Regions from separate parts of the Homo sapiens genome. Here all the other regions are reported to be linked to region 1. Evidence: microRNA targets listed by miRTarBase, many of them from high-throughput screens and not tested one by one. Region 1 holds a microRNA gene; each other region holds the end of a gene's coding sequence.
Evidence for each region. Region 1 holds the annotated microRNA hsa-miR-5197-5p (CAAUGGCACAAACUCAUUCUUGA, at 3,280-3,302, opposite strand). A microRNA usually pairs through its seed, bases 2 to 8, with sites in the 3' UTR of a target mRNA and lowers its output. Matches are read on the target gene's strand: a 7mer-m8 pairs with bases 2 to 8, a 7mer-A1 pairs with bases 2 to 7 and ends in A, and an 8mer does both.

Region 1 (5,233 bases):
CTGTTCATCTGTCTCTTTGGGAGAAGAAATGGTGGGCGTGATTCCACACAGATATCTTGGCAGGCTGATAAAGACCACCTTCCAAGCTCCCCAAGCTGGAGCCTTCCCTAAAACTAGCCATGCACAGCTCAGTCTTGCTGTAGTTTGCATGCCTGCAGCAGATTCCCTTCTTTAAGAAGTCTCTGCAAATCAGGCCCAGACAGACTCCATCGCCTATTCACCTAAAGTTCACTAGGCAATGTGCCTGGTGTCATTTGAGCAAGCTGCTTGGCAGCCAATTTTTTTTTAATGATATGATTGCCCAGGCTTTCAAATCCCATTATGAAACTGTTTATCCTTTAATCAGAGCTTTAAAAAAAAATTGACATTTTAGTTTGATGGAAAGAGATGTTGAGGAGAAATATTTGGAAAATTGCTCTATGGGGCCAGATGATGCAGTGAGTCACAATCACTGAACATATTTTGCAGGGAGGAGGTCTGTGGTTGTCCCCATTCTTCCCTGTCCCAGAGCTCTTAATGACAGGCAGTCACTGGCTATTAAGGAAATCAATCCTACCATGGATAGGAAGAAGGTAGAACTAATTCCCAGGACAGCTATGAGATTCATTAGAAGAGTTATTAGGAAGAGAGGCCCACCCAGGCCCTGCCTTAGGGCCCCCTCCACCCTAGTGACAGAAAACAAGGAGGCCCCTAGCTATGTCCTACGTTGCATTCCAAACCCTGCATTGATGCAGCTTGTCTGTTATTGGAAACAGTTACCAGCCAACAGCAGAGTGTTATGCCTGCTGCTTCACTACAGCCACACATAACTTCAGGGCTGCAATATGATCTGCTTCACACAGAGGGAAGGGAGTATGTAGTACATTATACGTACCCAAAGTCAAAACAGGGGACTCAGGATTGGCTTTAAGAGAAACAGTTACATATTTCCATAAACATTCTCTGAGCTGCTCTCAGCTGTTGGGTTTTCTCACATCCACTTATCTAGAGAAAGCTTTGGGTGATACCACAGCATGGCACCCTTGTCCCCTCAAAAGCCCACACACATTTGACTGACTAGGAGAAGTGGGTGTAGGACCCTGGGGCATTTAGCCTCATAAGAACAAGAAAGTTATTTTTTATCACAGCTGAGACCTGGCATCTAGTGTGATGCCTGGCACATAGTAGGAATGAATGAATATAGATGGCACACAATCACTGAATGAGCCATCCCTCCCTCCCCAACCTCTTCCTCTCCCTGTCTTCCCCATTCCACTGCCTCCCACCTTTATTTCTTCAAAAGCAGGGGAAAAATCAGAGTATAAGATCTGGTCATGAAACAGAAAGAGTCAATGTTAGGTGACTAAGAGATAGAAGCAATGTCTGTGTTAGTTAAGAATATGAACTTGGGGATGGGCGCGGTGGCTCACGCCTTTGGGAAGCTGGGGCAGGTGGATCACGAGGTCAGGAGTTCGAGACCAGCCTGATCAACATGGTGAAAGCCTGTCTCTACTAAAAATACAAAAATTAGCCGGGCATGGTGGCATGCACCTGTAATCCCAGCTACTCAAGAGGCTGAGACAGGAGAATCACTTGAACTCGGGGGGCGGAGGTTCCAGTGAGCTGAGATTGCACCACTGCACTCCAGCCTGGGTAACAGAGCAAAACTTCATCTCAAAAAAAAAGAATATGAACTTGGGAGTCAGGTAAACTTAAATTTAACTTTTATCCTTTGCCACTTGTTAGTTGAATGACCTTAAACAAATTACTTACTAGTCCAAGCTTATTTTCTCATTTAGAAAGTGGGTCTAATAATAGTACCTACCTCATATACTTGTGATAAGGATTAGAGATAATGCCTGAAAGTACTTGGCACGCTACTTCAGACTTTAGTATTCAATAAGTGTTAGCTGCTTTTGTTATCTTTCCATATGCTCATTAATACTATGTGGGAATCAACCCAACTAAGCGACCACAGACAGACCTGCATCCCTCTGAGAAAAACTCCTACCTCATCCATCTCTGAAGCAACTGAAGTCTCTAGAATTATTCTTGGTACAGATTTGACCATTTATTAGCTTGGTTTCCATGGTTACATTAGCCAACCTTTGGGCTTTCGCGTCTTCATTGTAAACAAAGATGGCCACTCTATGTACACACCAAGATAATCACATGTGAAAATGATTGTAAAGAGTCCTAAGAGCAAATATGAGTTTTCAGTTTATGCTCTTGTCTAGAGAGCTAATATTTTAGGATTAGGTTAGGGAGTGGGAAGGAATATAAACATCTGGGAGCACTGTGTAATGTGTATCCAAAGACATTTATCCCAACATCACTGACTCATACACATCAATGAATTGAAGGGTTTGTCATTCATAACAATTATGCCAACCATTCTAGCTGCGTATAATCAGTAAACCTGTTTTCTTTGGAAAGCTGAAGAAGTCACATGGTCTCCATTTTCATTCCAGTGATGTTCCATGGTGGTTTTAAAAATTCAGGGGCTAGGGTTAGATAATTTAAAAAAGGCCCAGCACGGTGGCTTGTGCCTGTAATCCCAGCACCATGGGAGGCCAAGCCAGGTGGATTACCCGAGGTCAGGAGTTCCAGACAAGCCTGGGAAACATGGTAAAACCCTGTCTCTACTGAACATACAAAAAATTAGCCAGGCATGGTGGTACACACATGTAGTATTAGCTACTTGGGAGGCTGAGGTGGGAGGATCACTTGAACCCGGGAGGCAGAGGTTGCAGTGAGCCAAGATTATACCACTGCACTCCAGTGAGACTCTATCTCAAAAAAAAAAAAAAAAAAAAAGAGAGAGAGAGAATTAAAAACAAAAAAAACCTCAGGCTATATTTCTACCAGTGGACAGTCATTTTTCTCATACACAGTAAAGCAGTGTATATATAAAACAAAGTAACATGAATGGAAATGAAATAGCCAAGAAGGGAAAAGGGAATAGTGGATACAATCATCTTCATAGTTCAATTAATATTCTACCATGCCAAGAATTTTGCATATATTATCTCAACTCTTGCCTGTAAGTAGATACCATCATCTCCATGTTACACAGGAAGAAGAAATTAAGGCTTACAGAGGTTAAGTAATTTGGCCAAGGTCACAGACCTGTGAAGTGCAGAACACTGCCCTCTTTTAATGTCTGCTTTTCTTGTTTTGTTTTCTTGGATGGTTGAGTGGAACTGGCCACTCTGAGTTACCCTCTGTGTTGACAGAACATGAGGTGAAGTGACATTTAGAGCATTCGATGACTCAGTCTCTTCTTGAACTGGCAAAAATTCAAGAATGAGTTTGTGCCATTGATACTCATTGTCTGTGGAATCCCATACAGTTCTTCCCTAGCTGTAGATCAGGGTCAATCTGCAGTGACAGAACATTCTACTTCTCTAACATACCATCAGTTTTCTCTTATCACTGTAATGATCTGTTGGGTGACCTTCCATCAATCAGTCTGCTGTTCAGTTTCCTTCATTGTCATTTATGAAGCGTATCCTATAAGTAAAGCCCATTTATACTGGGCACATAGGAGACAGAAAAGTGAAAGAGATTATCCCTGCCTCCCCACGAGAAACTACTCTAGTGGAATTGACATGAATAACTAGGTAGGTAGAGAGAAATAGATGGATGAGGAGACTATGACAAATATGAGAATAAAGGCTAGAATAGTTTGCTATACAAGCAGGAAAGGGAGGGTGCTAGCTTGAAGGTGGGGATCTGAAAAGCCATCTTGAAGAGGCAGAATTTGATCTGGGCTTTGAAAGAAGGATGAGGGGCAAATCTTGGAGAAGGGTCGTGCTACCAAGCAGACAGGACTGTCTTGATTATCCAGCTCATAGATGGCCATCTTGTCCTCTTTTTCACTGGGCTCAGGAATAGTCTGAGCTGCTTTCTCCATACTGCAGCCCAAGGGATCACCACCAATTCTACATAACTGGTTGGTATAAGGAATGAATCCTCTTGACCATCCCTGATTTACCCCTATAGTGGCTCTGCAGGAAGGAATGTTAAGCCAAGTAATCGGGGAATTGTTGTATCCCACAGACCTGAGTAGATGACTATTTGGATTTAGAGAGGGTCTTTCAATAAAAATAAAGTACACAACAAATATAAGTACCTACTTATAGACATGTCCTTGGAACCTCTTACCTCATTCCTTACCTCTCTCTCATCTATGCTTCTCATGGTACTTTATTTAACAGAGACATTTGTTATTCACCTACTTTGTGCAGGGCTCTTTGCTAGGTATCATACAAAGATGTATAAAATATGCCATCTGTTCTCGAGGAACCATCAATTTATGGAAGTATAAGACCTACATTCAGAAAACTATACAAGTCCATATAATCAGAAGGTCATGTGCATTGGCATTTTGAAGTTCTACACTCTCCCATCTCTATAAAGTAACTGGCTTGAAAAAAACAATCTGCCTCCAAAATGTAGGGTATGGTCTCAGGAGAAAGTGACTCACACAAAAAGATGATGACTTTTTGTTCTTCTGCTGTCTCAGAATTTTTCTATCTGTATGATTCCACATTCAAATTCAAGTTTTGAGATGAATACCCAGTTCCCTTTGTATTGGGTGACATTCTATGCTATTAATCTCAATTGATAATTTTATCTGTGTAATGGCTTCTAAGTATGAAAAAAACAAAAAAATTCCTCTCCGATATTAAAGTTGGGAACCAAATAGAATAAATGTTTTACATCTGACCCAAGCATGTAGTGGAAAAATACAGAACCTGTATTTTCAAATCATTTAAATGAAACATGAAATTGAAACAGAAAGTCAATAACCAAATTAATCATCTTATTACAAAGAAAATGTAACCTGCTTCATTACTGTAATGGCAAACATCAATAGAGTAGAAAATTGACCAGTTTTCTTACATTAGAAAAAAATCTGATTCCTGGTTGCCTAGGAAGCTCTACTCATATTAGTCTTTATTGCATCTTCTGTAATGAATTAAAGCCTGTAAGGTCTCATTAGCACATTACTAATGTAAGTTTTAAAAGCCATATTAAATAACATAAAATGTTACAGTATGAATGTTGTGAGGCTGAGTGTTAAGAGAACAAATTTACATTTTACTATTTTGAAAGTGAACCCATTTGGTTTTGAAGATATTCAACAGCACATGTAAAATAACCAAGAACTTTATCCAAATTAAATAGCAAGTTGGAAATAAGGGATGTAAGTCTAAGAGGGAAATGTTCACCTTTTATATCTAAAGCA
Region 2 (5,233 bases), not on the chromosome of region 1:
TATTTCTAAATTATCCAGCTTTGGGTATTCCTTTCTAGCAACACTAAAGGGACTAAGACAGCCTGCCATATGTAGGATCACAAGGTCAAGCACAAATTTACCTATTTATGCTGTACTATCCTCAGGTTGACTGGGACAAGTAGACCATGAAACTGGGCAACAGCTACTCTATGTCTACATTCTGTTATTAGCATCCAAAGTGAATAATGGCGGTGAATTTTGAGTTTATTCTAAGGGTTTAAATAACTGCATATTTTATCATGACTGGTATGGACTGAATTGCATCCCCCCCAAAAATTCATACTGAAGCCCTCACTCCTAATGTGACTATATAAATGTTCCTTAACTTACAAAGGGGTTATGTTCCAATAAACCCACCATAAACTGAAAATACCTTAAGTTGAAAAGATCTTAAGTCAGAAATGCATTTAATGCTTCTAACCTACCAAACATCATAGCTTAGAGTAGCCTACCTAAAACATGCTCAGAATACTTACATTAGCTTTCAGTTAGGCAAAATCATCTAATACAAAGCTTATTTTTTAATAAAGTATTGAGTATTTCATGTAATCTACTAAATACTGAATGAAAAACTGGATGGTTTTATGGGTACTCAAAGTACAGATTCTAGAGTGCATATGGCTTTTGGACCATCATAAAGTCAAAAAAATCTTAAGTCAGGGACCATCTCTAGTTGGAGCTAGGCCTTTAGGGAGGTAATAAAAATTAAATTAGGTCATAAGGGTGGGGCCCTAATCCCATAAGATTAATGTCTTTATAGAAAGTGGCACCAGAGAGCTCTCTCCATTTGAGAACACAGCAAGCAGACAGACATCTGCAAGCCAGAGAGAGAGCCCTCACCCAAAACTGACCATGCTGGCACCCTCTTTTGGACCTCCCAACCTACATAACTTTGAAAAAATAAACTTCTGTTGTGTAAGCCACCCAATCTAGTATTTTATTATGGCAGCCCAAGCTAATACAATGGTTTTATTTGTTGATACATTTTATAAAGTTTACAGACTGAGATATTATATTCATTTTTGAAGAAACTTGTCCAGAGTTAAAACTGTTGCTGCAAAATCACCCATCAAACTGTTAGCACAGCGTGACTCAATTTTAATTCTAATTACATATTTAACATACGATGGAGGCAGAAGGTGTGAATATAAATACAACAGGTAAAATACAGAAATACAGTTCTTGCCTTCATGTAGCTTACCACCACCTTAAGTGGGGAAAATTAACCCAGCAAAAAGTATGCTGAAGTCATACATTTAGGGTTTTTGTTTGTTTGTTTGTTTTTTGAGATGGAGTCTCGCTTTTTTGCCCAGGTTGGAGTGCAGTGGCACCACCTCAGCTTATTGCAACCTCCACCTCCCGGGTTCAAGCAATTCTCCTGCCTCAGCCTCCCAAGTTGCTGGGACTACAGGCACACACCACCACACCTGGCTAATTTTTTGTATTTTTAGTAGAGACGGGGTTTCACAATGTTGGCCAGGCTTGTCTCAAACCCCTGACCTCAGGTGATCCACCCACCTCAGCCTCCCAAAGTGTTGGGATTACAGGCGTGAGCCACAGCACCCAGCTAGTTTATCCTCTTAATTTTCCTTCTTTAATCTTTCTCATCACTCATTCTTAACAGGAACTCTTTAAAAAAATTTAAGAAACCTCCAAAAATATATGCAAAAGAGGAGTCAAAGAAGAAAAATAAGCAAACAGCAATGAAAAAGGAAAGCATAGACTGGAAGGGCAGATAGGCAGAAAGGCATGTATGTAATTGCACTTAGAAGGGATGCAGTACATGTTTTAATGGGGTGGGAGCTGTCCCAGAGACTTCCTTTCACACAGTCTGTCTCCCCAGCTTCCAAATATAAACATGCACATGGCTGCTGCTTCCTCTCTTTCAGGGGAACTCAAACCAAAAACAGGAATCATCCTTGCTAATTAGTGCTGAGTGGATCAGGGACTAACCAGAATCAGGCAACAAGAAAATGTAAGTCAAAACTTATGATCAGCCCTGGCAACAGAGCTAGACCCTGTCTCTACAAAACAAAATTTTTTTTAATCAGCTGGGCATAGTGGCATGTGCCTGTAGTCCCAGCCACTCTGGAGGCTGAGGTGGGAGGATGGCTTGAGCCCAGGAATTTGAGGCTGCAATGAGCTATGATCACACCACATCTCAAAACAAAAACAAAACTTATCTAGGGACTACACGTGGAGCTTTGGATATGGGCAGCTAATCTGTCTATGATTAAAAACACGCAGGTGGCTTACTTTATTAATCCAAAATAAAAGAATTTGGGAACACAAGAAAGGGAAAAATGAGCCTCCATGTCAAGACCTTTCCCAGAAACCTGATAGCTTATAGTTAGAAATTGTTATAGACAGTCCAGTGCAAGGAGGACATTAAGCCACAGGGGAAAGGAGTTGTGTGGCCAGGTTAGTCAGGCAATTAACTAGAAAAAATCTGTCCACATAGAGGAGCCTGCATAATAAAAAGGTATTAAACGATAGTAGAATATTGCTAGAGCAGAAGATAGCTAGAAATATAATCAATAACCAGGTTATGGAAGTCAGGCACCTTAGAGTTTATCCTATAGGCAATGAGAAGCCATTCAAAGGGTTTTTGTTTTTGTTTTCAGCACTTTAAAGATGTCATTCTCGTTTTCCAGCCTCCATTATATCTGTGAGAAACTAGTTGTAATTCTTATCATTGTTTTCTTGTATGTCTTATGCCTTTTTCTATGAATGCTTTTAAGATTTTGTTTATATTTATCAAAAGTTAACACTGATGTTTCTAGGTGTCTTTTTCTATGAATGCTTATAAGATTTTCATTATATTTATCAAAAGTTACACTGTGATGTTTCATTACACTGTGATGTTTCATTACACTGTGATGTTTGTTTTGGTTTTGGTTTTGTATTTATCCTGCTTGGGGTTCATTTCATTCCCTGGGTCTGTGGATTGCTGGTTTCTCATTTTCTTTTCTTTTCTTTTTTTTTTTTTATCAAATTTGGAAGACTTTTGTCCAGTATTTCTTCAAATTTTTTTTTCTGTCCCATTCTGTTTCTCCTCTTCTTCTGGGACTACAATTACACTCATGCTAGACTTCTCAGTACTTAGTACAGGTCATTCAGGCTCTGTTCATTCTTTTTTCAGTTTGTATAATTTCTATTGAGAGCCACTGTCTAGTAATCCCTGAAAAAATCTAAATGTTGACATTTTCCCAAAGCACAGTACCCTGCTGATGGCTGTAGTTTCCTTTGGGGAAGGTTTAGAGATATGTTAGTCAGGAAATCAGAAATTAGATGATATTACTACAGAGAGGATTTAGTATTGAGTTTTCATTGACTGAAAAAGCAAAAACGGAACACTGAGGTTACCCAGAGGTGATAACTGCAGGGAGCAGCTGTCAATGATAGATCTAGTGAAAATGGGGACTCAAGGTGGATTATCAGGTCTCAGAAACTCAGACAAATGACCTGGCTGAGTATTGCTCAGACCCCTGAGAGGATGCTGTCTGGCTGATCCTACTACTTCAGGGAAGGATATGATGAGGCTAGTTGTGGATGGGGAGGATGTCAAAAGAAGCTCAAGGCTGAAATCAATTGCTGCTGCTGGAGCAAAGGGCTCTTGCTTGTTGCTGGGATAACAGTGACAGAAACTGCAAACAAATGGAAAGGAGGAAGTCCCTTCTTCCCTTCTGCCTTCCAGTCTCCCTCTAATGCCCTTTATTGATGGAACCTAGTGAGACACCAGCTGACATAGAAAAAAATGTAGTTTGCAGGGTTTGAGCCACAGCATTACAGAGAAATGTATAGAAGGGGGAATGTGGACCTGAGACAATAGTTTAATAAACAGTACCATATCATTTATTTGTGCTAAATTGGTAAGAATGGCCAAAATTAGACTTAATGCCATCATATGTGCTTTTACAGACTTTTAGACCTTTTTGAAAAGAATCTCAGGATACCATGTCAATTTTCTGCTACATTATGATTACTGTTGGTGCCTTTTTCAGGAGTAAGGAGTACTTTTACTGCAGCTCACACATACACTAGCCACAAAATCATAAACAAGGGCAGCCTTGGAAGAGATCTACATAACTGAGGATAAGCAGACCCTACCCCAACGTTAGGTCTCCAAACATCAGGGACAAAATGGCATGGGCTAGGTAGGACTGGCAAGAATCCACACTTCTCCCTATTTCTATTTCCTATGTATCGCCTAATGTGCTCATAATAAGGAGAAAACCAATTTCCTGTTCTAACTTTGGACAGCCACCCATTGTCATTAAAAAACCACTTATTTTCCCTTCTTTCCTCTTTTCTTGCCTCAACCCAGGCTCCTTTACCCAGCCCTATGACTTCTAGTTTTCTAATGCAAGTAGATGACAAAACAGGGTTTGGTGTTCAACATTTCACCTTATAGTGTATTTTTCACAAATGAAGGAGTTTTGTTGAACATTTGTAGAACATTTCTAATTTTTGAACTTCAGTTCCATCTGAAAGGGGTCATTTCTTTGAGTCTTCTATTATTTAGTAATAGCAGTTAACATTCTCCTTCTACTACAATTTACCTGGAAAGACACCCATAAATACCAATAAAGATACCAGATTCATAACGTATTTCATATATTTAATATTTGTATTTGAATATATTAGACTAGAATAAATTTTCTGCATTTGTATATATTATATATTTTATAGCACTCTGTCAGTTATATAACACAAAAGACATTCATAGGTAAACATTAAAATGGCAGTATACATAATAACTGAACATTAATGAGACAATAATAATCAGGTATTCATTTAATGGGAGAGTCTAGTATTTCCTGGTAGTCCTGCTTTCTTAAATTCCTCCAGTAAAGTTTATAGCCAGCAAGGACAAAAACACTAATCATAATGATTACCCCTCCAAAAACATCATAGATGCTAGGAAATATGTGCAGCACGAGAAGCTGCAAGACCATAGCTACCACAATCTCCAAATGTTGTACTGTGCTAACCAAAGCTGGATGGAATTTGTCCAAGGCATAATAAACTCCTAAGAATGCTGCAGTAGAACAGACACATATAGCAATGAGATAACTCCAGGTTTCTCCATCTAATGGGATGATGGGTTCTTGAAGAATAAACATAGTAGATATTCCCCAAATTGTCCCAGTCCAACCAAAAGTAAACAGTGCAGTCCACATGCTGATCTTCTCCTTGATGGATCTGTATA
Region 3 (5,233 bases), not on the chromosome of region 1:
CTGATTTATTCTCAAAATAATTGTATTTACAAGGAAACATCAGTATTTCTGTAGCAGAATTAATGGTGCACAAAGTTACCTTTCCGCTTATGTATATGTATGATATTTAAAAGTTTTCTTCAGAGTCCAAATAAGTAAACAATTATCATAGAAAATGACATTTAAAATGTTGCATGAATTCTTTCTGCTTGATATGGCCAAATTAGTTTTTTCATAGCAATTGATGGAAACTATGATCATACTTCTTGATTACCTTTGCATAGTCCAAAAGAAACATTTGACTACGCCTTTTTTTTTCCTAATTTTCTTGGAGGTTCTGTGGCTATAACATCAGAGAACATTATATTGACGTTAGAATTTACTTAAAATGAAAATTATTTGGCAACCCCTGTAAATATTTTTGTTGTTGTTGAAAATGAATAAATGTGATTGTATTTGTTCTGATTGGAAATATTTTAAAAATCAGGAACAAATTAAAATTAGGAAATCTATACTTCCTCCCTAAAGAAAATCATATGGTAAACATTATGGTGAAATCAAACATATGGTAAAACCAATTTTTTCTTTCCTAGATATGCAAACATGTGTTGGTAAAAGACATAAAAATAATTGTGTTGGATCTGAGGTGATATGTTCTGAATGTAAGCACCGTCAACATCAGACACCTACTCATGGACATGTGGTTGCCGGATTTTCTTAAGATGTTTCCAGAAATGACTGATATTTTATATTTATACATTTTAGATGACAAAGCTTGATATTTATTGCTGTTGCACATTTTAAAGTTTTCTTTTTGGGTTGCTCTGTGTCAAGAGAGGTTACATGGTGTTAAATCGGTACCTGATAATGTACCCAAATACTATGGCCAGATAATAAATTGTGCTGCAAACAACATGTCTTGTATTTATAGAGGTCTCTGCATACATTTTTAGAGCTTTAGATGATTTGCTATATTTTTTATTCATGTAAAATGTAATTCCAAATAAGAAATTCTGAGTGTATATAGTCTCCAAAGCAGACCATCTGTTTCTGAAACCTTCCCCTGAGGTAGGTGAACAGCTTCCATGTGTAGATGAAATATGGCTGCCATTGATAAAGCTTGTTCTGTGTTTTCAGTGTCATGAAATCCCAGGCTCAGAGAGATATCTCTGCAGTGAATCATTGTGTAAGATACAAGAACAACACTTCTATTCAGGGATCAGGTGTCAGAGGGCCTGGGATAGCAGACAATTCATTAATTTGATTTAGAAGACTAAAAGTAGAGAAGCTTGAGAGAGGATTTTTTTTTTAAAAAAAGACTCAGATAAAAGTACAAAACCTGTTACTGTGAAAATGAACAGGGGTGATAGGAAGAAGAAATGAGACATAAGAAATAACTGATAATTCTTAGTCAACTTGCTAACTCTGTTAGCAAGTTGAATTGGTAGGAAAAACCTGAGGATGGAAACAGTGTGGAGAAATCTTAGCTGCAGATACACAGAGGGCAGAATGGAAGTGATATTGTTGAGTTATTTGAGAATAGGTCCTTTGGGACACTGAAGACTAGTTCTGCAGGTGAAATCTTTATCTTGGAAGACATTGCTCCCAGGCACATTGGGAAATCCTGGGCTGACAGCCCTTTCCTTGATCGAGAAACTTGTGATCACTTCTTAGTCTCCCTTTTCATCCTTTAGGGCCTTACATTACTCTAGTCTAGCTTTCTTCTTTTTTCTTTTCAACGTTTAAGTTTCCTTCTCCAGCCATCTCTCCCTGGATCTCCACAACTTTTCAACAGGGCCAAACTAATCCTATGAAACCTTCTGTCTTCCCAATGTCTTCTGTGCCAGCCACAGCTCTCCCTGCCTTTGCTTTCCTCATGACATTGTATCTGAGTTGCCTAAACAACTCATGTTTCCATGTACTAGCTTCCACTGCTTAGTTCAATGATTTCCATATTCCAGAGTGGTATTTCCTGTACTCTGTGCTTGGATGGGTTAACATCTGATATGGTTTGGCTGTGTCCCCACCCAAATCTCATCTTAAATCATAGTAGGAGGGACCTGGTGGGAGGTAATTGAATCATTGGGGTGGTTACCTCCATGCTGTTCTCATGATAGTGAGTGAGTTCTCAGGATATCTGATGGTTTCATAGGGGGCTTTTTCCCTTTTGCTCAGCACTTCTTCCTGCCATTATGTGAAGAAGGACGTGTTTTGCTTCCCTTTCCGCAATGATTTTAAGTTTCTTGAGGCCTCCCCAGCAATGCAGAACTGTGAGTCAATTAAACCTCTTTCCTTTAGAAATTGCTCAGCCTTGGTCAGTTCTTTATAGTAGCATGAGAATGGACTAATGCATCAACCCTCCCTGCTTGTCTAGTTCTCAATTCTGGTATCATGTCACCTGAATTCTGTTCCTGTTCTCATTTATACAGAACCACCTACTATGGGCAAGTCAGTGGCTTGTTTCTGTTTCATGGAATCTTCTAGCTATGGAGAGCTCAGGTATCAGACTTCAGAAGTAGAGCTTGGCTTGCCTTGTGCATGGAGACTTTAGTCTATGGCCACCACTAGTTAAGAGCAGATTAACTCTGCAAGGCTGGCTCCATAGACACCTCACTTTTTCCTGAGTGGTGCTGTCCTCAGTGTCTTAACACTTAAACACACCATGATATTCTGATATGCTTGATCAAAGGAAAATGTTATATTCTTTATTCAAGTAAAAATAATTGTTGGGACAATGGATAGTTGAGAAATGAGTGAGATCCTTTGTATAGAATTAAAAATTATAGTAATACACTAAGAGGATGTAAAATGAGAGTTGTCCGATGAAAAAGCTATGGACATTGAATGGTGCCTAAAGATAGAAAGGACTCAGTTGAGGGCCAAGAACATTTAGCATCTTAGATTTCCAGAAAGACTAGAAAGAGAAGCTATGAGTATGCAAAACCATTATGTCCCTTCTGAATAGCAAACTAGAAGAGAACTCATTTTCACTAAGAAAGTATATTGTATTTCCTAAATAAAGGAGACATTCTTGGCACTTTTTTGTAGGTTTTTTTTTTTTTTTTTTTTTTTTTTTTTTTGCCAAGTACAAACCAAATTAACCAGGATCTCACAGAGTGGGACTGTTGGAGGCGGCAAACCAGAGCCTGACTTTGGCTGGCAGAATGAGGCCCTGGGGCTGTGTCTGAAAGAACCAACAGAAATGTGACCACATCACTAAGTAATGGACTGGTCGTGAGGCAGAGACCCTGTTAACCAACCTGGAGACGCCACTACACACACATGTGCATGAGCACCAGTGTTCATTGGATAAACTATCTATGGAAGGTCTCTTTCACAACAGGCAGACAGCACCTTCTCTTTTTTTGAGACAAGGTCTCACACTGTTGCCCAGGCTGGAGTGTAATGGCATAATCATGGGTCACCGCAGCCTTGATCTCGTAGGCTCAAGCGATCCTCCCATCTCAGCCTCCCGAGTAGCTGGGACTACAGGCACTCACCACCACACCTGGCTATTTTTTTTCTATTTTGTAGAAATGAGGTCTTGCTGTGTTGCTAGGGCAGGAGATCCTTCTTTTGAATATGAATCAGTTCCAAAGCTCCATTTGCCACATCCTAAGGCAAAGATGGTTCTTCATTTCTTTTCAGATTTGTGTTTCTGTAGAAAAAAAAGAAACAATTAAGAACTTCCTTTGATTTTCAGTGCTAGTCAGTTTGCACACAGTGCCTGACACCTCATGTGTATTTGTTATAGGCTGAATTGTGTCCCCCAAATTCATGTGTTGAGGTCCTTAACCCCCCAATACCTCAGAATATGACTGAGTTTGGAGATAGGGCCTTTACACAAATAATTAAGTTAAAATGAGGCTAGTAGAGTGGGCACTAATCCAGTATGAGTTGTGTCCTTATAATTAGAGATTAGGACAGACATACACAGAAGGAAGACCATGGGAAAACAGAAAGAAGACTGCCATCTGCAAGCCAAAGAGAGAGAGATCTCAGAAGAAACCATCCCTGCCAAAACCTAGATCTCAGACTTCCAGCCTCCGGAACTGTGAGAAAATAATTTTCTGTTGTTTAAGCCATCTGGTCTGTGGTATTCTGTTTGGCAGCCCTCACAAACTAATGTAGTATCCGGTAAATATTTGCTGAAGTTGTTTGTTTCCTTTTCTCTTACAGACTGAATTGGAAATGGCTTTCTTTGTTGTCATGCAGGGCAGAAATCATTCTTTCCATAGGCCTTGTCAGTTGTAGAAGAGCAAAGCAGAATGTTTGTGGATTATTCTCAGCTACTCAAATTGTTCCTAGTTTCTTTTTAGTAGGATTTTGCTTGTGGAAATTTGACATTTTATTTGGCGCCACACTGGTTCACTTCTGTTTTCTCCCAATTCATTTCACATTGCAACCACATCAACTGTGTTGGAGACTGTGTTATTACAATGATTTGACCTTAGGTTGAGGTTTCTGTTGCAAAACCAGCTGAGGAGGTCCTAAATGTGGAAAGCAGATGTTTCTCTTCTGGCATGTCTTGCAGAATTATCTGGCAAGAGAATATCTTCTGTGAAAAGAATGCGTGAGAAATGTCATGCATTTGGCAATGATTAAGAAAGAAAGGTAAACCTTCAACTCCTTGTTCTTAAAAGAATTTGGCTTGTTATTTACTGGGAAGACAACTAAGATGCAAAGAGCTTTTCTGCTCTTTGCAACAAATTTCTTAAAATTTGTTTTCTTTTCTACTCTTTTGTTCTTCATAAGGCCAGAATATATTATCTCGGGGAGAGCTGATGAAAACATGACTTAGTGGCTCTTAGAGATTTAGCATACTGATGTCCAAGAAGACGTTGTTGTTTTTTAAACTATCAAAAGGCAGGCCTTCATTTGGACTGCTACAACAAAAATACCATAAACTGGGTGACGTAAACAACACTGTATTTCTGTCACCCAGTTCTGGTGGCTGGAATTTGATATCTGGGTGCCAGCATAGTCCAGTTCTTGATGAGGACTCCCTTCCTTATTTGCAGATGGCTACCTTCTTGCCCTACCCTCAAATGGGGGAGAGAGAAATCATCTCTCATGTCTCTGCTTATAAGGACACAAATACTATCACGAGGGCCTGACCCTACCTTCATGACCTAATTATCTCCCAACGCCCAACGACCCCACCTCCAAATACCATTGCAACGAGGATGAGGTTTCAGCATATTAATGGCGGGGGCACCAATATTTGATCCGTAACTATGCGAGTGCCAACTAG

Region 2: the mRNA of SLC35G2 is a reported target of hsa-miR-5197-5p. Seed matches in the 3' UTR shown: 7mer-m8 at 4,762-4,768.
Region 3: miRTarBase lists STAMBPL1 as a target of hsa-miR-5197-5p. The part of its 3' UTR that is shown has no 7-base or 8-base seed match.

What each region holds. Positions count from the first base shown.
Region 1 is chr5:143,677,955-143,683,187 of GRCh38, reverse strand. MIR5197 (microRNA 5197) reads right to left here and starts at 3,328; the gene lies at 3,217-3,328.
Region 2 is chr3:136,855,281-136,860,513 of GRCh38, reverse strand. It overlaps SLC35G2 (solute carrier family 35 member G2), which reads right to left. Exons shown (of 2, transcript NM_025246.3): 2 at 4,626-5,233. The coding sequence ends at 4,815. The region is part of intron 1 of NCK1-DT (NCK1 divergent transcript); the gene reads left to right. Among named protein-coding and RNA genes, the nearest start is that of NCK1-DT, 4.2 kb to the left of the region's middle.
Region 3 is chr10:88,922,596-88,927,828 of GRCh38, forward strand. STAMBPL1 (STAM binding protein like 1) reads left to right here. Exons shown (of 11, transcript NM_020799.4): 11 at 573-892. The coding sequence ends at 629. Among named protein-coding and RNA genes, the nearest start is that of ACTA2-AS1, 7.5 kb to the right of the region's middle.